Homo sapiens: one gene and its partners. The protein of the gene in region 3 binds, or shares a complex with, the protein of the main gene of each other region. Each region holds a gene or a part of one and is shown on either strand. Other genes may lie near its edges. The genes, in order: FGFR1, NTRK2 and FRS2.

Region 1 (11,207 bases), on a different chromosome or scaffold from region 3:
TGTTTGTTAACTGGATGAATGAGTAAGTGAATGAAGGAAAAAAAAGGGCTGATGAAAAGAAACTGACAGAGATACTCCTCCAGAAAAAGAGGCTGAGAATATCAGAGAAAAGCAATTAGGTAGTACCCCTTGTTAACCAGCCAAACTCTAGTCCAAAGAACCCTGAGAAAATTTCTGGACAACTTGGTTCTTCAGAATTGAGGAAGTAACACCAAAACATTAATCCCTTCAGATGAGAATAAGACTTATTTCTTCCCCAAAGTGACCATTCTCTACTCACATGTTGAGAGGGCAGGGGGCAAGTACTTAATAAACATATGGAGAAAGTTACTCAGCTCAGCTTGCTAAATTTTAGTTGGTCCAATGGAAATGCTAATTTTTTGAGTCTCTTTAAAAAAAAAAAGTGTCTAAATGTCCTTGGAAGTAAGAGACATATAAAAAATTAGCAATAAGTGGTCAGGCACAATGGCTCACACCTGTAATCCCAGCATTTTGGGAGGCCGAGGCCAGCGGATTGCTTGAGGTCAGGAGTTCAAGCCCAGCCTGGCCAACATGGTGAAACACCATCTCTATTAAAAACACAAAAAATTAGCCGGACATGGTGGCGCATGCTTGCAATCCCAGCTACTAGGGAGGCTGGGGCAGGAGAATCGCTTCAACCGGAAGGCGGAGGTTGCAGTGACCTGAGATAGCGCCACAGCACTCCAGCCTGGGCGACAGAGCGAGACTATCTCAAAAAAAAAAAAAAAAAAAAAAAGCAACAAGTGAAACACGAACTGCTGCACATAATCTAGAAAACCTTGCTCTTGAAGACAGGATGTACTATGAGTGGAACCCCACCAAATTCTTGGGATAGTTCATCCATGTGAGGGCTATTAAATGGGGGAGAGGGCCCTAAACATGGTTTCTTTCATTGCAGGGGAGAGATAAATGGTGGCGAGGAGAGAATTTCTGTTTAAAGTAGATGCAACCTTAGGAGGAAAAACAAATATCCTAGCCCAAGTCTGACATTTCATCCTCTCTGGAAACACCAGAATCTTCTCTAAAGCTCTGCATCTGGGCTCCCACTAGTCCCTGGTGCGTTCAGGCCTTTTACAAAGCTCTGGGGAAGACAAATGTAAGACACAAATTTCCCAGGAGGAAATTAAACTATCAAGTGATGTGAGGCCCTTTCAGAATAAGACATTTGAATCAATTCTAACTCCTTTTCCTCCAGCAGCAACAGGCTCAAACTTTGCTAGGATGTTCTATAACTAACAGCCATTTTGACGAAAGACACTTTAGAAACGAAGGCAAGAAAAAAGCCTTTGTAGAAGCCGGCTGCTAAACCCCCAAGTTCATACCAGCAAATCTCTCATTTTAGGAGTCTTGTTTCAGGTCAATACTGAAAACAAAGAGCACACCACTAAAAGCAAAACCCATGGATTTTCCTTGGTCTCTAAGGCTTGAATCTGCCTACCCAGTGTTCAATTCAATTTTCTTGCCCTCTGGAGTCCACCAGGAATAAAGCTAGCCCAGCCTGAGGGATGCACCGATGTATCTAATCCTCTGCCCCTAGGGAGTGGGGGACGCTTCTCCATTTCTTCCTGAGCCTTTGCTTCCCTTGCTATCAAAGGGCCACCTAATGGAACTGTCTAACACCCTCCATGGCCAGAGGCCAAGGAAAAGAAGCACCCTAAGATTGTTCAAGTGGTGCCCACTCTGGCCTGAATTCCCATTGGGAAAAATACCTCGAAAATGAGCATTTCTGCAGGCATGTTTGGAAAAGCAGGCAGTGAAGTACGCAGTCCAAGTGGCTCTCAATCTGGATGAACCTCATTAAAAAGCTGACACTCAGCTATGACTAAGAGTAAATGCAACAGATATTTCAAGCAGCTCGTCACTGATGCAGTTCATAACCCTCCCAGCTGGAGTCAGGCCCCAGCAGCCTCCCGGTCCCCAAACACCCTGCACTCGGAGGGTCGGGGCAGCCCCGGAGCTTCTCCTAACCCACTGGGGGTAGGATATGTAAACAAGTCATTAGGGAGGCAGGCCATCGGCAAAGACGGCCGGCAATAGCAGAGGCTGCTGAACCTCGGTCACCGAGAGGAAGGTGGATGACCCGGGCGTGGGGGTGATTACCCAGACCAAGGCGCGTCCCACGGGGCCCTGCTACTTCGCTTTTAAACAAGCCTCAGGGAGGAAACCGGGAGCCCGGGCCAAGGGAGGAAAATGGCCACTTTCTGCTAAACAGTCTCAAGGCTAGATAGTATTCCAAAAAAAGCGCTGGTCCGGAGGTGCAAAGGGTAGGGCACATCTGCGGAGGAAACAGTCACCTTAATTACCACGTCTAGAGAAAGTGCGATTTCATTACAGCCTCCAAAACTACCGCCCAAAGAAGGAAACCAGAGAAGTGTTTTCAATTTGAAAGAGGCTGGAAAGAAGCGGGTAAGACACCGACTCTCCCCACCCTCCCGGCAACTTTGGACCACAAGGCGCTTTCCTGCCTCAAAGACTATTACCAAACACAACTCGAAAATCCAACCCCGCTTTCAAACCTGTAGCCGTTATTTAAACGGTAAAACACCCCACTTTAGTTTCCGGGGGATGCGGCCCAAATCAGTCCTTAAAAACACACAGAGAGCGCCTCTGGCAGCAGCCGCCCACGCCCCCGGCCCTGCGCACCGGGCTTGCTCCGGGAGGGGCGCGTGACGCCACCGCGGGGCAGCCGAGAGGGGACCGCGGGCTCCGGGCAGGGCAGGCGCTCCCGCAGCTCCAGCTATAACACAAGGGAGAGAAAGCAACGCTTTGGTTCCAGAAACTTCCATCGTCAAGGCCAGTTCTGGCCAGACGCACAGCCAAAGAGCCCCCCTAGTCTAGCGGATGAACCGTTCGCGAGTGGCACCCCCTAAAACCTTGGCCCCATCTCCCAAGATGCCTCTTTACTGCGCAATCCAGAAAGCACCCGGACCGCCGCCACCCACCAGCGGCGGCGAATAACTTGGTGAGATCTTAAATAACTCGGGATCCAAGGGAACTTTCTTTTCTCCCCCGAATCTCAACGCCGCATCTCCAAGTCTCCAGAAATGTTAAGGAGGGAGGTGGTCAAGACAGGCTGAAGAATCTGAGTTTTAATTTGGGGGAGGGGGAGGGGAGGAAGAGGGAAGTTAATAATGCGGCTGCGGTGTACCCGTGTGGGGTGAAACGGAACCAGATGCGGCTGCTACATCTGGAAATTGGGGGTGGGGGAGTGCTGGGGGAGAAAGGCACCGTGGTAATGTTTTTCAAAAGGGTTGATAGCTTCTGGGCTCAGAACAAGAAACAGGCTTCACACCCCACCCCCCCCCCACCACCACCAAAAAAGTGTCTGGCTGCCTCATAGGGGGTGTGTGTTCTATATGAACCCCCATCTACAAGGTCCATAAAATTCCTCCGCAAACATGGGTCGTAGCCTCACTTTTCTCCCAACCCCAAACATAACGGTAGGGGAAGCGAGGTGCAGAGGGGTCTGGGCCAGAGAAGCATACGCATCGCTGCCGAGTGAACCACACCGGACAAAAACCCTCATCCCTTCCCCCACCTCTAGGAACCAGATTGGGACCGAACGGTCCTTCCGCCCCCATCCCACACCTCGGCTTAACGACCGTGGGTTGTCCTCCCGTTCCCCAAACTTCCGACCCTTTCAGAGACCGTCCAAGTCATAAGATCACCCCTTCTGGAAAGGGGAGTCGTTTTTCGCTCTCAGCTCAAGCAGATTCAGCCATTTGGTGACGACACCTCCTTAAAACCTATTCCAAGAGAAGCTAACCTAGCCCTCCACGTCCTCCGCAGTTCATCTCCCACCCCATCCGACCCCAACCCGCACCCCAGGCTTTCCCGGGGGTGGAAAAGGACTTAGGAATGCCCCGGATTTTTAGCGTTGAGCCCAAAGCTACCTGCTGAATTGGGGGTGAATCCCCAAAAGGGGACCAAAAAGACATGGAGTGGAATGCAACACACACACATAACACACACAACGCATCCCACCTCGCCGCCCACTCCCGCCCTCCTCCCCAGTCCAGGAAACCGCGGGCCTCGCCGCCTTCGCCCCGGGCCTGTCCCTCCCGGGACTCACTGAGGAGCCGCCGCCGCCTCGCCAGCTCCCGAGCGCGAGTTGGAGGAAAAGTTGGGCGGCGGGAAGAGCGGCGGGACGAGCGCAGGGAGGGGGCGCAGGAGACGCGGACGGAGGGAAGGGAGGGGAGACCCAAGGGGCGCGGATCGCCCGGGAGGGAGCCAGGAGGTGAAAGGGGCGGGCGGCGAGCGGAGGGAGGCGCCGGCCCCGGCTGGGCTGCGGCGGGCAAAGCGCGCAGCCGGGAGGCTCCGGCGCCGGGGGCCGCTCGGGACGCCAAGCCCGCCCCAGATCCGGGGGCGCCGCGGCTCTTACCTCGCTCGGCGTGGAGGTTCCGCCTCGGGAGAGTCCGCCGTGGCTTGTGCGAGCGGGCGTGTGCCCGCGTCCCCGGCTCCGGCCCGCCGCCCCCGGGCTCTGTTCGGGTCCTGGCGGGGTCGCAAGAGCTCCGCGGCCGGCGCTCGACTCCCGGCGGCGCTCGGTGCTCGGCGCCTCCAGCCCGGGCGGGAACAATGGAGCCGGAGCTGGTGCCCCGGAGGCGGGGCGGGGGGAGGGCTCCCGTCCGCCACCCGGGGTCTCCAGACCTTGTGCCCCCCTCCTCCAGAACGCAGCGGCGGCGCCTCACTTTCCTTGCAGACCGGGCTCCATCGCCCTGCGGAGGCCCCGGCGCCGCGGCGTGCCCGACTGCAGCACGGGTACCGTGCGCCCTGCGGGGCGCCCCGAGCTCGGACCGGAGAAAAGTCCTTGGGTTCCGCGGCTTTTCAAGCAGCGGCGCGCTCGCGGCCGGGGAAGGCGAGGTCGCCGCAATGCGCTACGAGGGGTCTCGGTCCCGTCCGGACGTGGCCGCCCAGCTCCCGGCACACCCGGGTTCCTCCGCGCGCTGCGGCTGCACCGGCGTCCCGGCTCCCGCTAGCTGCCGCCCGCCGCCGAGGACGCCGCGCCTGTGGCCGCAAGAGCGCTCCGAGCGCTATGCGCCGGCGGGGCGCGAGGGCTCGCTCTCTCACTCCCACCCGCGCTGGTCCCTCCTCCGCCTCCGCCCCCTGCAGCTGCCTGCTGGGCCTTGTAGTTCCCCAGCCGCGGCCCCAAAGGACGGGGAGCGGGCCGAGCTGTCCGGCGCTCTGCCCTTCTCTTCCTACAGCCTGGTCTCCTTTGGCGTTTGCGCCCCTGCATCTGAGCACGTCCCAGAGGGCGCCGGAATGTCAGGCCCTAGACATAGCAGCGGTTTGGGGGCTAGGGGGCAGGTGAAGAGACGCCGCAGCCTTGAGGTTGTACCTGGTAGCGTGGGCTTTGGAGTCTGTGCGCCTTGGGGAAATGATTTTCGCGCTCTAAATCTCTGTTTTCCCATCTGTAAATGGGGGATAATAGTGCTTTTCACATAGAGTTGAGGCGTCAACGAGGGCCTAGCGCATAGTTAACACTTAGTAAATACAAGCCGGTTTTATTATAAGGTCAGCCCCTCCTCAAACCCTTCCCTTGGATTTCAGCTTTCCCCAGCCACATAATTTAGGTTTTGTGGTCCACCGGGAACTGGACCCTGTAAATTCTACAGCGATGCTGTTGGCTTCCAGAAGTCTCCAGCCTGCAGTGAATGTCTAGGAAGCAAAGAGTAAGCAGTGGGAGTTGAGGGGAGACGTGTGGTTGGTTTGGAAATTAATCACAGCCCACTCAGAACACCCTCCAGTACTGTGGAACACAGGAAAGTGGCTAAAATGCTTCCCCCTGAGTCTTCCCGCGAAGTGGTATAATGTAGTGGTTCCCTAATCCAGATGGACACGGGTCCTAGGGAACGTCTGAAAAATACAAGTTCATGGGCCTGCTCAGACATGAGGAATCACGCTGTCCCAGGAAGGAGCCAAGAGCCTTTATTTTTTCCAAGGCTCCTTGGGGCGTGTGATGTGAGCCCAGGCTGAGGCCACCATTGGGGTGGGAAGTAGGCAGCACTTGGTCTGAAGGATTCCTCCATTCTGTCCATCATTTATGAAGTTTGATGTAGGACAAATCATGCATCTGATAAAATCAAAACGGGGTATCTGTTGATACTCCTTCACAAGATGGTCATAAGAATCAAATAAAATAATAGCTCTCAGTGGACCAAAAATATTACACAAATGGAAGTCACTATGAAAGGTAGTGGCAGGGCCTGTTCCCTTACCATCACCCACCTCAACCCCGAAACTTGTAGAAGTTTGAATACTGAATGAGATCCCCCCACCCAACTCCTCACCCAACCCACCCACGCCTCCCTGGCTAATTTAAGAAAAGAGTTGGCCGGGTGCGGTGGCTTATGCCTGTAATCCCAGCACTTTGGGAGGCCGAGGCGGGTGGATCACGAGGTCGGGAGATCGAGACTATCCTTGCCAACAAGGTGAAACCCCGTCTCTACTAAAATACAAAAAAATTAGCCAGGCATGGTGGCGCTTGCCTGTAATCCCAGCTACTGGGGAGGCTGCGGCAGAGGAATCGCTTGAACCCGGGAGGCGGAGGTTGCAGTGAGCCGAGATTGTGCCACTGCACTCCAGCCTGGCAACAGAGCAAGACTCCGTCTCAAAAAAAAAAAGAAAAGAAAAGAAAAAATGGTCCTCGCGCTATTTTTCTAATCCACCAGTAGGTGACAGACTAGTGGCCAACACAGTGTTATTCACATAGTAGACACTCATGAAATCCCTTGACTGGCCAAAGAGCAAATATTCAATAAGTATTTGTTGAACAAATGAGTAAATAAACAACTAAATTACAGCTCACGCCTGTAATCCCAGCACTTTGGGTGGCCGAAGCGGGAGGATCACTTGAAGCCAGAAGTTCAAGACCAGCCTGGGAAACAAAGTGAGCCCTTGTCTCTACAAAATATTTTTAAAAATTAGCTGGAGGTGGAGGCTGAAGAAGGAGGATGGCTTGAGCCCAGGAGTTTGAGGCTGCAGTGAGCTATGATCCAGCCACTACACTCCAGCCTGGGCGACAGAGTAAGACCCTGTCTCAAAACAAAATAATACAAAACAAAAAATGAGAAACAAGAACTCATATCTTTGTTGAATAAATGAACTTCAGCCACTGTTTATAGGGTTTTCCCCTAAGAGCCACCATTTAACCTTTCAGCTCCTGGTCAAGCTTGGTTTATACTCCTATGTAAGCTGCCCACCCATTAGGCCTCCTGCATTTTAATTACTACACATCACACGCTTGTAAGAAGGCCATACTCACACCCTACCCCCAAGAGGCCTTCCCTGCCCATCCCAGCTTTGTCAGTCCCTGGACCCCCTGCTCACTTGCTGACTATCCACTGAGTTGATACCGTGCTTTGTTAGTGGTTTTCCTTACTCTGCTTTCTTTCTAACTGGTTTCTAAACTGCTTTAGGGCAAGGATCTTATCTAGGTGTCTGACCAATTCTACACAGGAGGTTTTCCATGTATATTTATTGTTCATGGACTTGCTAAGCATAACCAACCTGGGTTACCAGAGGAGGAAACACAATTTGAGGGAATATGATTGGGAAGACAAGCCATGAAAAAAATCCAGCATTTAATGTTAACACCCAGCTACTATTTTTCTACTTTGCTCCGTAATTCTTCTCAAAAAAGGGTTTTTTTTGTTTTCTTTTTTTTTTTTTTTCCTGAGATGGAGTCTTGCTCTTTTTGCCCAGGCTGGAGTGCAATGGCACGATCTCAGCTCACTCAGCTCACCTCTGCCTTCTGGGCTCAAGCGATTCTCCTGCCTCAGCCTCCCGAGTAGCTGGGATTACAGACACCTGCCACCATGCCCAGCTAATTTTTGTATTTTTAGTAGAGACAGGGTTTCACCATGTTGGCCAGGCTGGTCTCGAACTCCTGACCTCAGGTAATCTGCCCACCTTGGCCTCCCAAAGTGCTGGGATTACAGGCGTGAGCCACCATTCCTGGCCCAAAACAAGGGGTTTTAAATCAAGCCCCTTTTTCTTATGATTTAGAACCATTGTAGGAGTATCTTGAACCCCAAATAAAAGGCTAAATAATGCGTTCTTGATTTAAACAGAAAGATAATGATCTAAATGCTTGTTTGGGGTTGAGGGACATGGGCCTGCTGCTGAAAAATCCTCTATAGATTTATCAAGAAGCCAAAATGAAAGCAAGTGGCCAACTTGCCAGGGTCCCTCCTCCACTTCTCAGGGAAAGAGCTGATGGCAGCTGAACAGAGAAGGTGAGAAACTCAGCAAAGGCATGGGCTGTCCACACACTGCAGACAGGTTTCTGAATAATTGAGAGTTGGCTGCTTTTATCCTTCCAGCCCACCTCGCTCCTTTTCTGTCCCACTCCTCTACTCGCCCTCTTTCTGAAATGTAGCCCTCCCATTTCTGGAAGGGCCCCAGGCCAGTGGAGGGAGAGTGTCCCTAGGGCAGCCCTGAGCTGCTCCAGGCAACAGGGGTCAGACAGCAGCTCTGCCTGTCTCTGTTCTGCCCGAGGCCTCCTGGCACCTTGCCTCCCATACAGAAATGTAACCTTCCCTCTGAGATAACAAAGAGCTGGGAGGGTCAGGGAGGATTTGTCGGCCCTTCGCCCTGCCAGCTACATGTCTAAGGGGAGACAAAGGCCCTCATGCTGGAGGGCCTGATAACTGGTTGGGGGCCTGTTGCCTCCCACATCTGTGGGAGGAGGAGACCACTGCTGAATGAAACGAAGGGAAACGGAGCTCTCCCCAAAGCCCGGCCAGCTCTCTTTGTTTGGGAACACTGTAGGAAATCCCTTCCCTGTTCCTCCAGCTACTTGTGTCCTCAGAGTTTTCCCTGGCAGACGGGAGCTCCTCTTCCCCTCTCCCCACATTCCTTCTGCCCCTGCTCTATCTGGGTTCTGTTATTTTAGGGCTCAGCTGTGCCTACCAGGAATGATCACCCCACTACCCTGGGTCGATACTGCAGAATTAACAATTCTTTGTTATGGAACAAGTCAGGTAAAGTAAGCACCATTGACATGGGGCAAGGTTGCAGAACTTCCAGCCCAGGCTTCAAGAGTCCCCAGGATGTGGTGAGAGCTGGCAGAGTCTCCACTCCGAGAGCTGGTTGCAGAAGGGGATTCGGGAGGAGGGAACTGTCTGGGGTTTTCCCTACAAAGTGGATGGTTCACAGGTCCTGGGAGCAGGTGGGCAGCCAAGCCTTTTGCCCCAGGCCCCTGGAGTTAGGGAGCAGCAGTCAGTCACCATCTGGCCACCATTTGGTGACCCCTGTCTGTTCCCAGAGCAGCTTCAGCATGTCAGGGAAGGGAGGGTCTTATTTGGCTTGGTGTTTTTGTAAATAACATTCACTCTCTTCTGCCAATTTGGAGTGAGAAAGGGAGCGAGCTGTGTGGCAGCTCAGCTCTGTCTGGCCTGAATGCCACATCTATTCACGGAGCCTGGGGGTGTCAGGGAGCACTTCTTGTGTGTCAGGCGCTGTGCCGGGCACAGTGGATCCGAAGATGAAAGAGATGAGTGCACAGCCTGGGGGACCTCACTTGTCTTGTGGGGGAGACCAAACATGACACGTAGTGCCACCCGGGGGCATCTGCAGGGGGCTGTGGAAGGAGAGATCAGGAAGGAAGATGACTCAGGGGAAGCGATGCCTGAATCTTGAAAGATGGCAATGTGAAAATCCACAAACTCATCTGGGATAGCTGAGGAAAGCAAGCCTGGAGAGTTTGTGTTGAGGGGTGGGGGTGGGGGGTAGACAGTTGGTAGTCACTGAAGCATCGAATTATTTTGCTCTGAAGGGATGAACTTAGTCTCTGGGGTCAAACAGTTTTGAGCATGGGTCCTGATTCTGCCACTTATTGCTAGCTGTGTGATCTTGGGCAAGCTAGTTAGCTCCACTGCATTTGCTCAATGGTGAAATGAAGATAACAATGGTAACTGTTCTTCCCAGGACTGTTGAAAGGATTAAATGAGAAAATGTGTGTAATGCACTTGGCAAAGCGCCCAGAACATTGTAAATGCTCAATAAATGGTAGTCATTGTTGTTATTATTATTTTTTAGCCCAGGAACTTTCCTTTGATGGAAGACACCTTCTGGAGCCTGCATATCTTTGTGGCTTTTTTTTTTTTTTTTTTTTTTTTAGATAGGGTTCCTCACTCCCCCAGGCTGGAGTGCAGTGGCACGATCTTGACTTACTGCAGCCTCGACCTCCTGGGCTTAAGCAATCCTCCCACTTCAGCTTCCCAAGTAGCTGGGACTACAGGCATACACCACCATGCCCAGTTGGTTTTTGTATTTTTTTGTGGAGGTGATAGTCTCCTTATGTTGCTCAGGATGGTCTTGAACTCCTGGGCTCAAGCCATTCACTTGCCTCAGCCTCCGAAAGTGCAGGGATTACAGGTGTGAGCCACTGCACCCAGCCTTCTTTGTGACTTTCTTATGTATTTACCATCTCTACCCCCACTTCCACCCTGGATTCTCTGTTCCCCAACACCAGCTGCAGAAAAGGATATATTTTTCACCCTCATCTCCCTCTTCCTTGGTGTACCCCAAGATAAACAGCCCTTTTTGTTATAGATTTTACTGTGAAATAAGAGAAAAACAACAAGAACACATATGGGGAAGCTAAGGGGCCCTATTAAACCTCAGCGAATCCTTCCAGCTATGGTCGCTGGTCTAGGATTCTGACTCCCTTCAGAACACTAAATGCAAACAAGCTGGTCTTCTGTCCTGTGTGTTTCTTCAGGGTTCTCCAAAGGCTCTCCTCTTTCTGACACAGACTTGTAAACCCTCTCCTGGTTAAAGCCACTCATCCAAGGGCTGGGGTCTGGAGAGGTGACAGAGGAGGCAGTGGCAGAACAGTGAAAAATTTGCATTTCTGAGGACCGCCCTCCACCCCCAAGAGTGAAGGACCTAGTTCCTTAGGCTTTGCCCTGCCTAGGTACAAAGATCAAAGTTTCAGGGTTAGGCTGAGATACTTGAGGATTCAACTTTGATGCGGATTCCATCCAAGGATATGCTAATAAAGTTGCAGCTGACTTCTCCTGGGTTGTTAAGAACCTTTGGCGATATTGGGCTGGGTAGGGTCAGAGAGGAAGATAATTTAAAAATAGATGGTGTTCTCCCATTCAGGTTAAATTTCCCCCTAACTGAATTTTATTATTCTGTCAAAACAAAACAAAATAGTTAACCAAATTTTTAATAGTGGT
Region 2 (10,333 bases), on a different chromosome or scaffold from region 3:
TAGATGTTTGTTCCCCATCCCCCACTCCCACACACTGCAAGCCCGGTAAGAAGAGACCAGGGCAGTTTTTCTCACCATATCCCATGTACCTAGCTAGTTCCCAACATAGAGAAGACCCCAATCAATATTTGTTGAAAGAATGATTGAATAATGTCAGTGGAAATATTAAAAATTAGATTTAGGAAATACTTAGGAAAATGGATTGACAAGACGTAATATGTGAATGAGTGTAGGGGTTACAGAGAAGGAAGAGTCACGGTTTGTGGCTTGTATTACTGAGTGGATAATGGTGCCATTCATTACAATAGGGAACACTGGCAATGGGTTTGGGGCAACAATGAAAAATTTTGTTTAGAAATAAGAAGTGTGACACACTCTCCTGTATCTGAGAGGGGTATTGCACACATGAGTCCAAAGGTCTTCACTGATAATTGATGGGGAAACAGATTAGGACATCATTAGCACAAAGAAGGTAACATAAGTAATGGATGAGGGTGATGTAGCCCAGAGATAGCCCAGGAAGTGAAGCAGCCATAGGACAGAATCCCAAGGGACATAAACTTTTAAGGTCTGTTTTTAAGAGCAGAGAAAAGGGAACCGACAAATAAAGCAAACAAGTAGCATGCAGAGAGATAGAGGGAAAACAAGAAAAGTGTGGTGACACCAAGGCCAAAGGAAAAGGATGTTTCAAGAAGGAGGGAGTGAGAAATGAAGCCAAGTTCTGCTAAGAAGTCAAGTAAGATAAGGACAGAGCAATATGGCCCATGAAGGCTTCTGGGGACTATGGTGAAGTGAGTTTGAAAAACAGTGGAATGGGACTGGTATAAGAGATAGGAAAATAGACATAATGAATACAGATCACTCTTCCAAGATCTGGCTTTGAAGGGAGAGGTACTTTAGTCAGGAGCAGAAGGAGAGGGAGGGAATCACACTAAAGAAAAACTTTTCTAAGATGGGAGGAACATGAACCTGCTTCAATTCTTATCTTAAAATGTGGAACAATAGAAAGAAACAGAAAATACAGGTATGTGAGAGAGGGAAAATTGCTGATAGAAAAAAGCTCGAGGTTGAGTGATTAGCTTCAGCTGAAAGGCGCTCCAGCCCTTCCATCGTAACTGGTTGCAGATGCAAGTTGCAGCTTACTCTAATGCAGTATGAGTGGAGGTGGCCCCAGGAATATCAAAAATTATTTGACAGAGAGAAAATAATGAAACTCAGCTGGATTACTGCTACCATAGGAAGTAAGGATTGGGAATTACTCACATCCCATCTACACATCAATGCTTCCCACTATTGGGAGTGTTTAGATGTGTATGCATCTGTCTCTTGCTAGATATAAGCTGCTCAGGGGCTCCTTGCCTCTGCAGAGTACCCTGTTTGTTGGACATCTCCATGTCCTCAATAACACTAGTGACACTGAACTACTTTTTGCATGATGGCAGCCCACCCACATGACAATCAGGAAATGTGACAAACTATTCCACCAAGATGAAAAGACAACTTGATGAGCAGAAAAATAAGATTTGATGTCCATGAAAGCTTCTGCTCTTGGGGGTCACAGAAAACAGAGACTAACCAAAGAGGTCAGTTAGAAAACTTGCCAGAGCCTCATCCACAGAAGTGGGCCAGGAATGGGCTGAAAAAGTCTTGAACACTACTCCCAGGGAAAAAAATAAAAATTTGTTTCTATTGGTGGGAAACCATGGAAGGGCTGTCACCCAGGATGGCAGGAAGCTGGTGACCTGCAAAACCATCCAGCCTCAACGGCAGAGCTGGACTTAAAGAAAACCTACTGGTCAGGTTTCTGCTGTTTAGCCACCAAAAGAACTGAAGCAGGCTCTTGTTTGCCCCTGGAGTGAAGGCAATGGTGAATTCTTGAACAGAAAAGGAAACACTAGTGCTCATGGCTGACTGATTCAGAACCACAGAGTCTTTCAAGGAGTAGCATGCATGAGTGTCACAGCCTCCAGGTTCAAGATGAAATCAGTCAGGCTGGTGAGGTCAAGTGGCTCAACCAAAATCCCAGACCCTGATACTGTCAGAGAGTGGGTATCCAAAATCCTAGATCCCTAACCAGCGCTCCTTTCAGTTATACCACGTTCCTATACTTTGTCGCCTTTCCCACTGTGTTAACCTTACCAAGCCAGGTTCAGTTGAAACAATGATGGTCTGCCCACAGGTCGTCCACCAGAAAAAAGTACACAAGTCAAGATTTCTTTACAATCCATTAAAGGGGGTTTACAGCCAAATGATTGTTTGTATATATATGTCTGTGATTTGGGAACAGAGGAGAAGGGGATAAGAAACACCACCAGAAACAGAAAGAGGCTGAAGAGTTGCAAAGAGAAAGGCCAAACCCATGTACCTTAGTCCATGTGGGCTGCTAAAATAAAATATCTTAGACTGGGTAATTTATAACAACAGAAATGTATTGCTCACAGTTTTAGAGGCTGAGAAGTCTAAGATCAAGGTTCTGGGAGGTTTCATATCTGGTGAGGGCCCATTCCTCATAAATGGCACCTTCTATGTGTGTCCTCACATGGCAGGAAGGACAAACAAGCTCTCTGGAGTCTCTTTTATAAGGGCACCAATCCCATTTTGCCTTTATGTCCTAATCAACTCCCACCTCTCAACACCACTACCCTGGTGACTGAGTTTCAACACATGAATTTTGGCAGAATACAAACATTCAAGCCATAGCACCAGACGCACACAAGAAATAACCAAGGAGCAATATCATCTATAACATTCTTTGAGTTTGGGTGGTAGCAGCAGGGTTTTGAAGTAAAATTGGGAGTAAACTAAAAAGAGTGTTCTGGTTTGGGGTTTTGTTTTGTTCTTTGGAGAAAGACACTTGTTTTGTTTTGTTTTGTTTCACCATAGTTGTGTGTTTTTTTGTCACACCTTACCAGGGAATCTAGGGGCTATGATGTCAAGCTCTCTTGCCCAGCACCCTCCACCCCTACACATGCATCACACAGAGGAATAAGCCAAGCCCAGAAAAGAGAGGTCACTTGCCACACAGTGAGCAAGAGTCAGACAATTCAGGCATAGGCCCCTCTGCCACCTCACAGCAAGGGACTCTGGGGTACATGAAGTAGAAACAACTCTTGTTACAAAGATTAGCGTTGAGAAGATCCTTTCTTTTTAAATTGCACTATATTGCAGAGGTTGAAACCAAAATTCCGATACCTTTCAATTTTGTTTACATTGTTCGTTTATGTTGAGAAGATATCAAAGAATCAGAAGATAGACACAGTGGGTCTCTGAGTGACCAGGTCGGCTAACAGGGTCAATGCACTAATGCTCAAGTACTTCTCTCAAAGAAGACAGCCCAACCAGATCCTGGCCAAGGGACATCCAGAATGATAAAAACAAAATTAAAATAGTGGTTTAGGGAAGCACATTCTCAATTATTCAGAAAATTTTACAACTCAAGATAATTAAGTTGAACAAATTACACATGGCAGAGTTTTATACACAGATTTATGTATTGATGAAAACACGGTACACACATACAACATTATGGTGTGTGTCTATGTGTGTGTGTGTAGACAATTCTTGGGATATGAAGATTACAGGAAAGGATGGGATGCTAAGTAGCAATTTGTCCTTATTTGACATAAAAAAAGGAACTCTAAATGGTGTGTGATTATTAACAGTTTTATTTTGTACAAGAAGATGCCATATTACCAAAGGCAACCAAATCATTTATCTCTTCACAATATATATCAGACTGCTCAGGAGCTGAACAGGAGAAGAGGATAGGGGTGGGGAAGACAGAGGATGAAGCACCAGCCCACCTCCTTCCCACTGCATGAAGTTTAATCTGTGAACATGAATTCAAATCTCTAGACCTCTCCTAGAATTGCCTTGGCTCTCGAGGTCAAATTTGGGCACCAAGGTTGGAGTAGACAGAGCCCTAAATGAGACATTAGATAGGATCCTACCCCTAAATTATGCTCTGCTTTACCAAGGGGCCCAGGCAAACTAATAAACCTCACAGCCCCTCAGAGGCTGCCAAAACCTCCCCACCTTCTTCAGAGTGAGGCTGTAAACCTAAATAAGCAGATGTCTGTAAAGGGCCCTTCACGTCCCATGGGAGCAAATCTTCATGCAACCAAAAATATGTCTCAGAAGGGTGCTTTTCCTGGAAAGGTCTCAGAGCAGAACACGAACAACACATAAAATGGTAGCTGGATGAATTTTGGATGGGAGCCAATAATCCTGAAGTTTGCTCACTGGCTCAGCCACTGAGACTAGTCATCAATCTTGAGGCATTGAGAAGTCAGGGGGAAGAAAGAAGTCGGGGAATAATAAGTACTCTCTGGCCACAGGTCTTTCAGGGCAGCTAACACAGACCTCATCGAAAGGGCTGCGGGTTTCTCCACTTACATAAGCACCCCCGACTGTGGCAAAGACTCCAGGGGCAACAGGTTTCATTTCACTCTGTCTGCTCTGCCCCTCTTCTAATGCCAATCTGCAAAGATGGCCCAGCAGGCCCAAGGTTAGCATACCTCATTGCTGCCAACTCATGAAGGCTTTTCTCTGAAGCTCAAATTTTTTGTGTATGAATTGCCTAAAGAAGAGGAACACTTCAAATTTAACACACACACACACACACACACTCACACACAGTAAGCTAAACAGAAAATATATTTCTTCCTATATGAAGATAAGATGATTGCTTTCAGATCAGTAGCTCATGCACTTTTCAATTACTTGGTCTCTCACAGAGATGAGTTTGCACAGACTTAGCCATGTTAAACTTGTCTCCCCATTTATGGTGGTTCTATTAGGTTGGTGCAAAAGTAATGGCAAAAACCACAGTTACTTTCGCACCAACCTAATAAAATGATGAGCCAGAATTAGGCGGTCTGTTTGAGAACACAGAACGGAGGGGAGGCACCCTAAAGCAAAGGCCCCCAGCATTCATTTGGATGCTAGGAGAAGGAGCTTCTAGTTCCCACAATGCTGTTAATGAGTCGGCCTTCGGCAACTTTCTTCACTGCCCTTGATTTTTGCAAAGAAGAGGCTGAAGCAGATCATTTCTAAAGCCCTTTCTCTTTCTGAGGTTCCGATTCTAAGTGACCCATCTGAACACTGACCCTGTGACCTTGGACTCATCAGACCAGTACTAACATGCCACTAGCCTTGTTAGCAGCTCACATTTAAAAAGACATGGTTTGAGGGAGTTCAGAGCAGACACTGAAAACATTTCCACATAACACTCTGACACCAAAGGTCTTCAGATTCACACACTGCCAGACCCCGAGCACCTTGTATCATGCCCTTCCTTCACAGCTGATGTATACACTTCCTTATCTCCGTGACCGAGGCTTCAGGGAACTTCAGAGCCTTGAGAAACTTGTCTGAGCATCAAATCCAAAGCCCTCAGTTTACATGTGACAAGCTGAGGCCCAGAAACATTAAAAGGCTGCTTCAAGATCAGGTAACTGGGTAGTGACTGGGTAGTGGTGACATTGGGATGAAGTTCCAGGTCTCCTGACTTCAGCTTTCCATGATATGCTTTTTTATTTTTATTTTTTGAAACACATAAGGAATAAACTTAGTATCTACACATTGCTTTTCTTTGCAAGATTTTTGTAACTTTGAGCACATTCACTCATCCATCTCCCAGATCAATATTTATAACTTCCCAGTCCTTTGGACACCCCAGAGAGCAAAGTAAGTGGTGAGAAGGCACCCAGTTATATGGGACCTTTACTTTTCTAATGGAGATTGATCAGCAATCAAATGTGAGCTAAAATTATCAGGCCACAGTGGAGCTCAGATCTTTGCCATTTGAGGCTTGAGGTGGGATTTGTTTTAAAATAGCTCAACCAAGTAGACTATAAAAATGATTGATCAACCATAAATAATCCAAGATTCAGGGTTTTTTTTCTTCCCTCTATCTTTCTCTCTCTCTCTCACAAACACACATCAAACAAGTAAAAACTTTGCCATGCTTCAATAGTCTCTCCCCCAAATCCTCCTATTGATTACAGGCATCAGAAGCAACTAAAAATTGGCATTGTTCCAAGGGGCAGGTCTTTCATGTCACATCCTACGCTATAGCTTTTGAACCTACAAGAAACTCTCTAGAGAAGTGGTAAAGTTAGCCAGAGGGATAAGGCCAGTTTATGGTATTCAATAATGGTTTGATAATGTTTTTTTCCCTAGCAGGCAAGATGACCAATGAGTTAAAACTGGATGCACTTGCTTAACACTCAAGGCAAAAAAAAAAAAAAAAAAAAAAAAAAAGGAAAGAAAGAAAGAAAGGAGAAGAGAAAAGAAATTCAATTCCCCTTCCCCAGCTAAACAAAAACACTAGTTTTTATACTCCTATGACCTAGATATAGTCAAAGAGATCATACAGAATATTACTAGGGAGAAAGAGACCTCAACTCTCAGCTGTTCAGCCAACTCTTCAGCTTAGAAAACACCTTTATAAGGGAATATTGAAGCAGACACAAACAGAGGTTTATGGGATAGAAACAGTGAGAGACCTTAAACAGACCTAAACTCCACACTAGGGAACTGGGACCACATTGCTTCAACTTCCCAATACTTGCTTGTAATAACATACAGCCCAGGCTCTTCTCTTAACTCCAGCATTCTGAATTCCCATAAGGAAATATCACTTTTCAGAGAAGAAAAAAATCAAACCCATTTTCCTGTATAAATAATGGGTGATGGAAGGGGAGGTGGAAGAAAGTAGGGTCAAAAGGGTCACAAGGCTTTTCCACTGTTTTACCCAGGGTAACAAAAGTGTCCATATTGCAGAGATTGAAGGTATGAAACTAAAAAGACTCCACACAGTTGTGCCAAGCTGATGTCTGTAAATACCTACACTATGAAGACAGCATGTTCTCAACTCCAGCTTGCAAGTTGTATTAAATAATGAATGATGTAAATTAGACTGCCTTATTCATTAACAAGTCTAGTGTGGCTTATGTAACCGTGCTCCAAATTTAAATACATGGCTCTTAAATGCATATAAGACACAGTCCAAAGTTCTAAAACCCCCAATGGAGGGGCTGAGAAGTAAACATCAGAGTAATAAAAATTGATGCCTTTCACTGAATCTTTGTGAATGCCAGGATTTTTTTTTAAGTACAATTAATTGCAATGGCAAAGCTTATTAAAGTAAGAGGGCCAAAATCAATGTATTAATGACACAACATTACAGCTGCTTAACCAGGCCAACAATAAATTGCACATAGAGTCTGTCATAGGAGAAGCTCCAAATTCTATTTAGGTTGTGCTAAGAGGAAAAATATAAGGCTGTTCTCAAATATTACCCCCAAATCAGAGAATACCACTGGAGAAATTCAAAAAAAAGATCCCTATTAGTCTTCATAAAGCACGTGCAACATAAAAATGCATGCCCTTCCACAGCAACATGGATACACAGAACACTACTGAACTGTAAGATGGTACATTTTAGGTTATGTATTTTTTTTTTACCACAGCTAAAAAAATGCACGACTTCTTTTGACTGTGCCTTTTACCACTTGGGTGAAACAGAACTTGTCCTTTGCAATGCACTTTGGCACTTAATACAACTGGGATTTAAACGGCCAGTTACATAATTCCAACAACAGGCTTCACTCTTGAATTCCATTGCATGTGACATTGGTACTGCGTTTAAATTCATTTTAACACTGCTGTGGTATAACCATTTCCAAATAACAGGAGCTGCCACTTAGCAGTGTGATGTTGAGCAGGCGTGATACATACCTATAGATAGATATTGATCTAGTTATGTCACATTAGTGGGCAAAAAATATAAAACAGGTACTGTGATGGGAAGATTTTTAATAAAATAGGTTCAATGACTCTGAAGACAAAATGTCAGCTTAGCTGAAAGCATGCATGTAAAAACAAAACAAAACAAAAAGATCCTACCTCTTGGTTAATCTACACATTTTTTTTAATGTCCCACTATTTGTGTTCTTAGAACCCTAAGGGCATGATGGTTTAATATATAGATGCTAAAAGATACACCATTTTTGAATGATATGGTAAACCGTTGTTTCAGCAAGTTGTGTGTTGCTAATCACAGTTTATTCACCACATTATTTCTATTTTTAAAAAATAGACGCACGTAACTTCAGCTACATACCACTAAACCAGAACTTTACAACAGGTTATTTTAGGAATACCACTGGGCCTAACAACAAAGTTTTAAAATATGTATAATTTGGTTCCAACTGTAGCTGGTATCCACTGGACAAGAATTTAAAAGCTGTGCAAGCAAATATTAATATGTAAGAAAAAGAACATAGATGGTGTCATATAAGGATGCGAGTGAAACAAGCGCATCCACTGATGTCATTTTTAGGTCAAAAAAGCAGAATTCAAAATAATTATATGGAGTACTTTCCAAAGAAGTATTGTCATACGAGTTACAGACAAAGGCACTGGGGCACAAACTGGCTGGGCTCACACAAAGCTGAGATAGAGCAGAGAAACATACTTTGTCTCAGGACTCACATCTACCCAGCCAGACTAATATTACTAACCTAATTCCCTGTTCTCAACACTTAGCCCTATATACCTCTCCAATCCCACAACCCCAAGAGGTTTTCAAATCAAAAGGGAAAAAAGTTAGAGTAGAAATTAGAAGTGCCACGATTGAATGAATAACTATGACACATGCTTTTGTAAATATTTTTAAAATCTACTTTAAAAAAGCTGAAAATAGGAACCTGCCATCAGATATAAAAGAAGCAACAACAATTGTGAGGACAGATATAAGAAAGCTCTGCTGAAATCAATTGATTTCATATACATCAGGCAGCTAAGATCAGGAAGGTCTGAAATAATAATTTTTTAGATTTAAAGATAGTTTTATTTCCTTTTTCTCAGATCATGGCCTTAAAATTATCAAACAGAAAAACAAAGTGAAAATGATCAGCCCTATCTTCTTTCTTTCTTCATTATATGCATCTATCACCTAAAACAGAATTTTAAAAGCACCACCACACACACACAACAATATCTGACTGTGGAAGGCACTCCCCATAATCTCAAAACAGTCAGAAGCACTCTGAATTCCATATGGCCTTCTCCATCTAACTACTGACACCCCATCTCATGAAAAAGATTCTGACAAAAGGCCACAGACTTTGGACCAGCCTGGTAAGCCTCAACCAGCCCAGTCCAAGACCACCACAGTTGGGGCCCTATCCACCCTTGCTCTCCGCTCTTGGCTCCTGCTCTCCTTGCCAAAAAGATAGAGATCCTAGCACCCTGGACTCAGCCCGACAGTTGGCTGCTCCCGACACATCTCAGCTATGCTAGGCCTGAACATTCCCCTCTGCTCTGCTGTCATTTCCTTTTGCCTGAGGCTTACACCATAAGCATCAGCAGCAGAACAGGCAACAGAGACTAGGAAGGTCTCTTACTTACATTAAAAAACAGGTTATCTTGGTCAACTACGTTGGCAGAAACATGGTTGTATGTTTTCTGTGGAAGGAAAAATGCATGCGCACTCGACAACCGGAAGGCCACAGCCCAAGCCCCACTTTAGGGCTGCCTATCTCAGTATCAAACACAATAAGGAAAACTGGGAGAAACTTTGCCTTACAATCTTCCACGTATACGAATAAAATCTCATGTTAATGAGATGTATGGAATGACAGCATCCTTCAGGAAAAAAATGATAACAATAACAGTCCAGTAGAGGTGACACAGGAATGCTAGAGAAAGGACTGGCAAGTTCTTGCTTGGTGATGCATTTGTCACAAAGCATCAGAAAAGGAGAATAGAAATACACAGTTCTGTTTCTTCAAGCCACAACAAGCTCAAACATTTCCAGGGACACAGAGGTCCAATGCTAAAGCCAGCCTTCATCAGAGTTCTACCCAGTGCTTTATCATCCAACCTAGTCCTGGGAAATTATTCAATGGGCAATTAAGAGTTATAATCCAAGTGGTCTCAAAATCATATCTCTGGGAAGTCAAGTCCAAATTAAATTAGACCAGGCTTTTAGGCTTCCAACTATCATATTTTTTTCTTTTGAGCGAGTGCATTTCAACACTCAGAACTTCTCCTCTTACAGATCATTTTCAAGGCCATCTCTGGATGCCATCTCCTAAGCAAAATCCGATATATAAAATGAAAAGGGAAATTGGTTAACTTAAATCTCAAAAAAGATGTTAAGGGAGAGACTGTCACTTCCCTCAACAGATTTGGGAAAGTTAATTATTTTAACCTCTTTTCTAGTGAATATTAATGGAACTTCTAACACAACATACACACAGCACTTTATGAAACAAAAATGCCCAAAACTAAGTTAGTGCATACTGAAAGCCTAAAGCACACC
Region 3 (10,401 bases):
AAGATATAAAGATGCATTTATCATGCATATTTTGCAGAAAGAGAAGCTGAGGCAAGGTAAGATGGGCAGTGTTTTGATAAAAAAGGAGTAAGAGTGGAAGGCAACCTCTTAAATTCCTGATACTACGTAATTCAATGTGGACAACAGAAATTTAATTAATTTAAGCCTTTTAAAGAAAAGTGCCAGTTCCAGTACTTTTTCATGATATTTAGTTAAAAATTAAATGTAAAATATACCAAAGGTTGATGAGCATTCCCTTTTAAGTTCTCTATTTTTGAACTTTCTCTGCATTTGTGTCAATGTGACATTTTTGCTCAAATTCAACCTTGACATCTCCCATTTCTCCACGCAAGCAGGATTTGACTAGAGATACTGGTTTTCACTGTCAGTATTATATGGCTTCAAATTTCTTCCGTTGTTTGTGAAACCACGTGCATAGGATTCGTTATGATAACTTTCAACAGAAACAAACTTCATGCAAGAACTATATGGGAATTAAAAGAAGTTTTAGACATGTGGCAGTTTGTCCATTTCAAAAATGATTATAAACATGTCAATATGAGGGGTGGGAGAGGGAAAAGGATCTATGTGGGTTTATTATAGTGACCTGTAAAAGGCCTGGAAGAGATTTATACATTCTTCTATAAATCTGGTTGTCTCTTTCAGTTGGGAGGCAGTCATGGCCATGGCACATAGAAAAGGATCAATAAATATTAGTTTAGTGGTTATGAGTGTGTCTCTGGGGACAGACTGCTTGGATTCTAATCCTGACCTCATCATTTGCTAGCTACCTGAACTAGCTTTGCTTGTGTCTCCATCCAGGAAAAAATAAATTAAAAAAATATATATATACCCTATAGGGTCGTTTGTCATCAAATCTATTTAAGTAATTGCTATTATTCATTTTTTGTCTTTCCAAGGCTGTTGACAAATAACATTAGCTACAACTCCATTAAAACGTTGGTGGTAATGATATTTATAATTTGATGTCTGCACTTGCCTTGCTTGTTTAGAAATGGTACAACGTGGCCAGGCATGGTGGCTTACACCTGTAATCCCAGCACTTTGGGAGGCTGAGGCGGGCATATCACCTGAAGTCAGAAGTTCTAGACCAGCCTGGCCCAACATGGTGAAACCCGGTCTCTACTAAAAATACAAAAATTAACCGGGCATGGTAGTGGGCACCTGTAATCCCAGCTACTCGGGAGACTGAGGCAGGAGAATCACTTGAACTTGAGAGGCGGAGGTTGCGGTGAGCTGAGATCGTGCCACTGCACTCCAGGCTGGGTGACAGAATGAAACTCTGTCTCAAAAAAAAAAAAAAAAAAGTACAGTGTAGTACCCCACAATTGCTATCCCAGAAAAACAATTTAAAATTACCTCAAAATACATTGAATAGTTATGAGCACATGTAAAATATATAAGGCAAAATTCTATACTTGTTTCTTTAAAACATCCATATGATGTTTTGGGACCAGTGGTCCCAAACTCTGTCTACCATAAAGATACCACATGTGGGTAAGGCCAACTCATTGCACTGTTTGATGAAGAGAGATGCTGCATCTAGCTAAAGTCACTGATGCCTTGTGGATGCATGCCAGATGTCTGCCAGAGTGTTTAAATTTTCAAGGGATGCCAGAAATTGGGATTTTTTTTTACATGACATTTCTCAATTTTAAAATTTTGACTCAATTTATTTCATGGTACAAAACTCTCTGGATCAAACAATACATTTGTCAAATCTTTGCCATAAATATTTACACTAATACATATGTACTAGTTACACTGTGCTGTTATTCAAAGCAAATGTTTTTGAGGCATGAATAAAAGATGAGGAAGACAAAATATAAAAAGGTCTTCAGAAACTCACAAGTCTAGTGGGGAGATAGGCAACAATGTCACAGAAAAGAGTGAAAAGTGTCACAGTAGAGTGTGGAAGTTAGAACTTAAGCTGTGTGGTTAGGATCAGATCTGCATTAAACCAACAAACAAAATCAAAGAACCCCATTATTTCAAAGCTTGGCAAAGGGTGGACACCCAAGTAGATGGCTCTTTTGTTTAACAAAACACCTTAATGGATTTTGGGGGTAGGAGCTATGCATAGACAGGGCCACAGCCTTGCACAGTTCCAGGGGGCATCATTTGTGTTTGTCACCTCTTGAGCATCATTCATGTTGTATTCTTTGTGAATAGCACCCCCTGGAATTGCACAACATGGTAATTGTGTCAATAAAGGTGGCCTGGAGTCTGGCCTGAGATGAGGATTGAGAGTTAAATCCTTCTACATAATAAAGTAAAAGGAATTTTAAGTCTTTCCTAGTGGGTAGAGGCAGGCGGGTAGAGGGATGCCTGGAATGGACAGAAGAAAAGGGTTAGGAGAAAAGACATCTCTAAGATGAGGATGGGCCAGCAATTTGGCAACAACCTGGAGCCGAATGAGCCTGGTGAGAGATTGCTTGTAATTTTTGCAAGAGATGCATACAATCCTCTGTCATCTTCTACCTCCAGGAGACACTGGTAAATGAAGTCAAACAACTTTTTCTTTGGCACTCTTCTTTATGAATCAGGAGATAATTGGGAAAGACTTCACCGTCCAGAATCACACAGCAACACTTGCCTAAACATACAATGCCTTAATAACTTGCCTTTTTACTGTTTTTCTTTAAAAAGCTGAAAGTGCTTACACTTTCATTTCCTCATTTGTTCTGACATTCCAGTGTGGGTGGGGCAGATTTATGATAACATTATTTATAGATGGAGAAATCGAAATAGAGATTAAATCGCTTAATCAATGTTGCATAGCTGGGGCAGTGGAGCCCACAGTGGAATTTGGTTCTCCAGGCTCCAGCCACGAAGTGGAAAGAACATGAGTTTTGGAATTAGAGGGATCTTTGCACAATCCTGATTCTGCCCCTTAACAAGAATGTGGCCTTAAGTCAATTACTTCACCTAAGTCTCAGTTATCCTCATCTCTAAAATTAAGACCATAAAACCTCATAGCAATGTAGTGAAGATTAATTTAGAAAACGCGTGTAAAGCCTTGGCATAGAGTAATTCCCAAATAATATTAGTTCCACCCCCAACCCAGTATTATCTGGTTACATTTCAGTACAAATTTAAAGTAATCAAAATGAATCCTCCATTATAGTAATTTTTTTTCTAGCCTCATCTTCTTTCACTGAGAGCAAAACATGAATAAAAATCCTTCAATAGGTCATTTAATTCAACGGCAAGAACTTTTGCTCCGGTAAGAGTTATCCCTGTTGGAAAAAATTAGAAAAAAAGAGGAATATGTGGAAGACAAGATATTAGTTCTTAATATCTTATGCAGTGGTTCTTAAACTTGACAGTATATCAGAATCTCCTGGAGGGCCTGTTAAAACACAGATTGCTGGGTCCCACCCCAGAGCTTCTGATTCATAAGATCTGGGGCGGGACCCAGTAATGTGCATCTGTAACAAGTTCACAGATGATGTTGAGAGGCTTAGTCCAGGGACTTCTAGGGGTGGGGCCCAGCAATCTGTTTTAACAAGCCCTTTAGGTGGTTCTGATGCACTCTCAAATTTGAGAACCACTGGGATAGTGGTGAAAAGCATCTGAGAATATGGTCTGCAAATTCAAACCCAGGCGGCTCCATTTACCAGTTAGATGACCAGATTAAATGACTAACCTCTAGCACCTCTGCATCCCACACAGAGCCTGATAATATCTGTGATTCAGGATTCCTCTCACTATCCCTTTAGGCCTTGAGTAAAAAGAGATGTCGGTGAGTCCTGCCAACCCACGCTGTTTTTTACTTCTTCACACTCTGAGGCACAAAAGGCTGCTTGAATTTGAGTATTACGGAAGTATTTGCCAACACTTCTGCGATCACAAAAATAAAGTAAGAAAGCCCTGTAAATAAAGCCAAGAGCAGTGGCATTGTTTGCATCTTAAATTTGTAATAATGGGTTTTCAACTTTTTTCCTTTCCCCTGCCTTTCATAGTAGAAACATTTAAAAATCTTCCCCGCCACCCCCCCCCCCCCCAGTTTCAAGAGATGTTAGTACATTTGTTTTGCAGATAGTATGCATTGCTAAGAGGCTTTTTTTTCTTTCCCTGCATCCCAGATACAGAATCTGCCTCAGATATCTGGTGCCTTTCTGATTTTGTGGCTGAGGAATCCCACGCCCTCCTCCTTTCCATCCCTTTTCCCTGTCTGGTATGTAACTCTGTGGGTCCTCATATTATCACTGCATGGAGCTTCACAAGCACCTGTATTTTTCCAGTTGTAAAAACCCCTACTCTTTCTTTTTTTTTTTTTTTTTTTTTTTGAGACGGAGTCTCGCTCTGTCGCCCAGGCCGGACTGCGGACTGCAGTGGCGCAATCTCGGCTCACTGCAAGCTCCGCTTCCCGGGTTCACGCCATTCTCCTGCCTCAGCCTCCCGAGTAGCTGGGACTACAGGCGCCCGCCACCGCGCCCGGCTAATTTTTTGTATTTTTAGTAGAGACGGGGTTTCACCTTGTTAGCCAGGATGGTCTCGATCTCCTGACCTCATGATCCACCCGCCTCGGCCTCCCAAAGTGCTGGGATTACAGGCGTGAGCCACCGCGCCCGGCCAACCCCTACTCTTTCTTATTTCCTTAACTAATCTTTTCTATTGCCTATTGCTGATGAGGTATAAGAATCGTTAACTTTTATCCAATGCCAGACATTCTGAAATGTTTATCATGCATTATCATTTTGGATTCCTACAATGCAGAGATGATTTTATAACTTGCCAGGGTGAAAAAATAAAAGTAAATAAAAGGAGACAAGCAAAAAGATTCCAGATCCCCACCCCAACCCCCCCAACCCCCCAACCCCAGCTCTCGCCTCTGTTGAAGTCACCAGTGATGACAGAATATAGGAATATAGTTTGAGCCCTGTTTTTAAATAATTTCAAAATCTTGGTATAGGTAGATGAGATTTATACACACGTGAATTAAAATCAACCAACATTTGTGAGATTGGGTTTGGTATCTTTGACCGTTTTTCTCCCCTGCAAGACGTAGATAATAGCACCAACCCCAAGGAGTTTGGGGATGATTAAATAAGTTAATGCACCCGAAGGGACTTAATACAGTGCCTACCACGTAGTAAGCGTTCAATAAATGTTAACTATTATCATTATTTTTTAAAGGAGGCAGATTGGAGCGTAGAGTACACTGAAGGGAGTCGGGAGGCCGGGTGTAGGCACTGGATTCTTGCACCTAATTCTCCGAGCCTCGGTTTCCTTATTTGTAAAATTAGCTGGCTGGAGTAAAACAACTCAAACAGCAGTTAAAGCAAAGGGTGCAGCAGTAGCCGGGGAATCGAGGAGGCGCGGGGCGGAAAGGGTTAGTTAGGAGCCCAGAGGCTGATCTGTGGGCGCCCGGCGAGAGAGGCCCCGCCCCGCCCTGGAGGCCCTGGCAGCTCCGGGCTGAGAGCAGTTCCGGTGCCAAAACCCTTCCCTCCCCCGCTCCCCCGGAAGTGCTTTTCCAAGATTCGGGCCGGAGAGAGGCCTTGTAGGCACAGCGGCTGAGACTCGATCTGCTCCAAGTAGGGGCTCCAGCGCGGGTCGGAGTCTGGGGGTTCGCGCCCGCCGACCCGCGCCCTGCTCCCTCTCAGCACCTGGGCGGACGGTGAGTGGCTAGGGAAACGGACTGGGACGGCCGCGGGCCCGCGTCGGAGCTGGCGTTCTCGTGCCCCCGCTGCCCGCTTCGGGATCCGGGCTGAGGGCTCGGCTGCCGGCGTCCGGGGAAGGGGATTGTCGACCGCCGCGGACTTCTCCGGGCCAGCGGGACGGGAAGAGCTGGCTGTGGGTCCATGGGGTGGGCGGGGCGGAGCCAGGGAGGGGGTTCCCAGAGCTGTTGTTGCTGTTGGGACTCGAGAGTGGGGATGGGCTGGGCCTCTGTTCGTCCGTCCGACCCCCCTCATGTGTGCTGCCCCAAACCTCGCCGCTCCCTAGTTTGGTATTCTGTGTCCGGCCTGGGGTAGTAGCTGGACACCAGACTCAATCTTGGGCTCCAGTTCCCGACTTTTCGCCTCCTCTGGGTCTGTCCTGGGGTCAGTAATTAACCCGGGTCCCAGGGGTGTCGTCTTTTCCCTCCAGGGTGGGGCGCTGCCTGTACATGCCAGGGATCTTTTGCAGGGCTTTTCATCCAGATTTGCTTCAGGGTTGTCCGGGATCGATTTGGACTGGGCTCGGAACCGGTCCTGGATACGTAGGTCGCTGTGGCACCAGCATGCTCTGTATCATCTTTACTCACTTGAAAGCTTGCTGAAGCTGTTGTTGAAGTAAACTTAAAGAAAAAACTTGCTTAAGGAAAATCAGTAGTTTAGACACCCCCTCCCCCGCCTTTTTTTGCAGACATACTAAAAAAAAAAAGATGCTTTTCTCTAATCTACACTCTTAATTCTTTTGGCTATCTGATGTCACAGTTGTATGATGAGTTCATTCAGAGGCTGTACGAATTGATTTTAAAGAGTTGGACAGTTATATCCTTTCTCCCAAAGTTTGTTTACCTTCATATTTGGAACTGTCATTTTTCTTAAGGAAAAATTGTTCTTGGATTTTCTTGAGAGATTCCTTACACTGTTAAAATTGTTGCTGCAATGCAGAGTTTCACACAGGTGGGCAGAGATGTTTTGTTTAAACTTATTCCATGAAGTGTTTACTTCGGATAAACTGAGGATTTCCTAGGGGAGAAAGTGATGTAGGTAGGTTTAGTGAACAGATTTTAGGTAGTAAACTTTACTGCTGAAAGGTTTGTAGGAAATATGGGTTTTCCACAATAAATGGTGATTTAAAAACTTTTTATAAGGGAATGCAGTTACTGCAGATTATTGCTATTAGCAGATGGCCACTGTTTTTGCAGCGTAAAGTATTCACAAATCACCTTCTTGAAACCAGTGACGCTATCTGCAACTCTCATCTTGTGTGTAGATTAGGGTTTATTCTGTAGTTTTTTGGGTACTTATGTCATTCTCTTTCCTCCCACCCCTGAAAGGGGAGGTGGTATCATGAATCAGGAAAAATAGACTGAAGTGACAAGTTCAGTGAGCTTTTCCTATGCAAAGGAAAATTTATTTCAAGGTTGTTGATTTTGAACAGGCAAAGGGTAGATGATTTTTAAAGTCCTTGGAAAAAATTGTGGAGAGATTAGCTGCACAACTTTTCTTTTTCCTCTTCCTTTCTTTTCTTTTTTCTTTCTTTTCGAGACAGCCTCATTCTGCTGCCCAGGCTGCAGCACAGTGGCCCCATCATAGCTCACTGCAGCCTCCAACTCCTGGACTCAAGCAGTCCTTCTGTCTCAGACTCCTGAGTGGCTAGGACTATAGGCACCAACCACCACACCTGGCTAATTTTTTTTTTTTTTTTTTTTGTAGAGCCGAGGTTTCACTATGTTGCCCAGGCTGGTCTTGAACTCCTGGGCTCAAGTGATCCTCCCATCTCGGCCTTCCAAAGTGCTGGGATTACAGTTGTGAGCCACCATCCCCAGCATATTTGCACAACTTTTAAATTTAGATAGAAACTGTAGCTTCTTCCACATGTGAAGTACTTAATTATTTAGAGCATAAGATTGGAATATTGGAATTGAGAGAATCTGGAAAAATAGTTAAGTTAGATGTAGTTACAGATTTGCAGGTATGACAATGTATTTTTAAGGGAAATACTTCAAGAGTTTTAAGAGCAGAGAAAGGTGATTGGGGAAAATCAGATACTGATTGTATTTTTATATTATACAAGTCAATTCAACAAACACTGAGCATTTGCTATGCATGTTATGCTATGTTATGCATAGCATGCTATTTGCTATGCTATGTTAGGTAACTATGTAAGGAGCAAATAAAGGTATAGCCATAACAGTTGAGTTTCATGTTTTGGTAATAATTTCTGAAATCATGAAGAGTTGAGTTGTATTCTTTAGGCATACTAACAATTTTTTTTGTAATTGGGACTTAACATTGGCGATGGGTGTTGAGTGCTTCATGAAAAGCGCTATACTAGGCATTTTAGGATATAAAGATTAAACTTTTGGTTTTTAGGAATTTGAAATCTAGAAGGGGATATAAGATTTGTGTAAACATTTACAACATAAACATTTGTAAATACTTATGGGTGGTTTGAGGTAAAGTTTGGAGTAAATTATACAAAAGAAGAAAGGGTTCATTTTTAGCTTAAGTAATGGAAATTTGTGGAGATAGCTCAGAAGCTACTGTTTATTGAGCATTTACTGAACAGACTTAATGCTAGTTGCTGTTTACAGCATTTTCTTAGCTTCACAGCAATATGTAAGTACCTTAATAATGAGGACAGTGAGGCTCAAATATGTTAAGTTACTTGCCTGGGCTATGTGGCTAGCATGTAACAGCCCCAATTTGAATCCAAATCTGTCTGGTGCCAAAGCCTGTGTGTTTCTACTGCATCATGTTGCTCCCCAATAAACTGGTAACCTGAGTTTAATGTTACAGAGAATAAGACTTTTCTAAGACAAAGATTTATGGATTGGGAGTAGGTGGGTGAAGAAGGCCTTTCAAATAAAGAGAATGATGTGAGCAGAAGTGTGGAGGTGGGAAAGTTCATTGTGTACTTGGAGAAAAGTTAGTGGACCAGATTACCTGGAATATACTGTTCATTTTTGGGAATTAGAGATGAGGTTTGAATTTTAAGTGGGGGCAGGATTGTGGAGCATGTTTAAGTGCTGCTTTTAGAAGTTTGACATTTGGGGAAAAAAAGTTCGACGTTTGGGAGGTAATGAGAAGTTACCAAGGTCTAATAGAGTAGTGTGCAGAATGATTTGATGTGGAAAGCTGACTTTCAATGTAGTATAAATACTGGGCAAGGGCAGTGGTAATGGAATTAGAGTGAAGGCTCTGCAGGACCTCAATGTCGTAGGTGGGTGGCGAGGAGGAGGGGTTTTTGGAGCAGGTTTGGAGGAGATGGAAGGTGAAGATTACACTTTTGTTTTTGAGACAGAGTCTAGCTTTGTTGCCAGGCTGGAGTGCGGTGGCGTGATCTTGGCTCACTGCAACCTCCGCCTCCTGGGTTCAAGTGATTGTCCTGCTTCATCTTCCCGAATAGCTGGGACTACAGGTGCTCACCACCACGCCCAGCTAACTTTTGTATTTTTAGTAGAGACGGGGTTTCACCATGTTGACCAGGATGGTCTCGATCTCTTGACCTCGTGATCCGCCTGCCTCAGCCTCCCAAAGTGCTGGGATTACAGGTGTGAGCCACTGCGCCCAGCTGAAGATTACACTTTTTAAGTGTCGGAGATGTTGACGGTGGTACTCTTACTAGAAATACGGGCAAGGAGGTACGTAATGAGATCAGTTTTGGATTTGTTGACTTTTTTGTATACTTGCCAAACGCTGGAAATGTCCAAAGGCTTTTGGAAATGTGGATTTGTGGTTAAGGGGAGAGGTCAGGACTAGGCATATATTAAACATGGGTTTAGTGAATAATACAAATAGGTGTACTGGTTGAATCTGTGTAAGAAGATGAAAGTGCCAAGGGAGAATGTAGAGGGGAAAGAAAAAAAAAACTTCTGTTTTAAATGGCATCTGTTTAAAACAGAAGGAAATATGCTAAGTGATTTATTTTATGCAGTGGGTAAAGAATTTGATAGTATGTCCACTGCTTCTTCACACTGTAGGTTCACACGGAGTAGAAAGAATCTGATCATTAAAAATCCAATTGGGAAATACAGTTTTCTTGCCCTGGGTAGCAAGAATACTATGCTATCTTTACCCTGTTTCAGGGAGGACAAACTACTTCAGACTCATTTCATCCAGAGTGTCAGATTTGGTTACTTAAAAGCTATGTTAGCTTGTTTCTTTTGGACATTTGTTTGGCAAGTGGTATGTGAGGAGTTGGAAGCAAATCTCTGATACAGTATTTCACTTATTTATGTGTATGACATCGATTTTGGTTTCAAAATCAAGAACCTCTGAATATTCAAAGATAATATTTACATCTCATTAAGGCTGTTAATATTGCTTTTTATAGAAAATGGCATTTGATTACATATTTTTCTTCCAACTCTATTTTATAAGTTCTTTTGATTAACATGATTAGTTTTGGCTTATAATGTTTGGATTATATTAGAGGGATAGAATAAGATACTTTTATCCATTATATGATAACACATATGAAAGTTACATATTTTATTTTGGAAACTGTTTAAGAACTGTAAATTTATAGAATTTTGTGTGGTTTTCTGTTTAGGTATTTAAATAGGGGGAACTTGAGTATTAATGTGTAAAAGATTATAATAGTTTGCAGAATGAGGCTTAGAGTTGTAACTTTTTGAGGGCAAGTTTATTATTTTTAGACTGAGTTACCATGGAAGTGTTTATTTCCTTCTTGAGAATTAATACATTCCTTTTGTTTTTC

The links.
Region 1: the proteins of FRS2 (region 3) and FGFR1 are in contact, whole or in part, in an NMR structure (PDB 1XR0), measured with the Homo sapiens proteins. Residues at the interface, in NP_001036020.1 of Homo sapiens: Asn25, Val26, Asp27, Asp28, Leu33, Leu47, Thr49, Arg50, Asp53, Ser54, Val55, Trp57, Leu60, Cys61, Leu62, Arg63, Arg64, Tyr65, Gly66, Tyr67, Asp68, Ser69, Leu71, Ser73, Phe74, Gln81, Thr82, Ile86, Phe87, Ala88; in NP_075598.2 of Homo sapiens: His409, Ser410, Gln411, Met412, Ala413, Val414, His415, Lys416, Leu417, Ala418, Lys419, Ser420, Ile421, Pro422, Leu423, Arg424, Arg425, Gln426, Val427, Thr428, Val429, Ser430.
Region 2: the proteins of FRS2 (region 3) and NTRK2 are in contact, whole or in part, in an NMR structure (PDB 2MFQ), measured with the Homo sapiens proteins. Residues at the interface, in NP_001036020.1 of Homo sapiens: Val26, Asp27, Asp28, Asp29, Gly30, Tyr59, Leu60, Cys61, Leu62, Arg63, Arg64, Tyr65, Gly66, Tyr67, Asp68, Ser69, Asn70, Leu71, Phe72, Ser73, Gly77, Arg78, Ile86, Ala88, Lys90, Phe98, Gln102, Met105, Gln106, Ser109; in NP_001018074.1 of Homo sapiens: Pro498, Asp499, Val501, Ile503, Gly504, Met505, Thr506, Lys507, Ile508, Pro509, Val510, Ile511, Glu512, Asn513, Pro514, Gln515, Tyr516, Gly518, Ile519.

What each region holds. Positions count from the first base shown.
Region 1 is NC_000008.11:38,463,579-38,474,785, forward strand, and holds the start of FGFR1 (fibroblast growth factor receptor 1 isoform 1 precursor), read right to left. Parts: upstream 5,058-11,207; 5' UTR 4,403-5,057; intron 4,147-4,402; exon of another isoform or gene 4,094-4,146; intron 1-4,093. UniProt on the Homo sapiens protein: Tyrosine-protein kinase that acts as a cell-surface receptor for fibroblast growth factors and plays an essential role in the regulation of embryonic development, cell proliferation, differentiation and migration.
Region 2 is NC_000009.12:84,671,256-84,681,588, reverse strand, and holds part of NTRK2 (BDNF/NT-3 growth factors receptor isoform a precursor), read right to left. Parts: intron 9,499-10,333; exon of another isoform or gene 9,418-9,498; intron 1-9,417. UniProt on the Homo sapiens protein: Receptor tyrosine kinase involved in the development and the maturation of the central and the peripheral nervous systems through regulation of neuron survival, proliferation, migration, differentiation, and synapse formation and plasticity.
Region 3 is NC_000012.12:69,464,887-69,475,287, forward strand, and holds the start of FRS2 (fibroblast growth factor receptor substrate 2), read left to right. Parts: upstream 1-5,501; 5' UTR 5,502-5,644; intron 5,645-5,802; exon of another isoform or gene 5,803-5,820; intron 5,821-5,906; exon of another isoform or gene 5,907-9,322; intron 9,323-10,401. UniProt on the Homo sapiens protein: Adapter protein that links activated FGR and NGF receptors to downstream signaling pathways.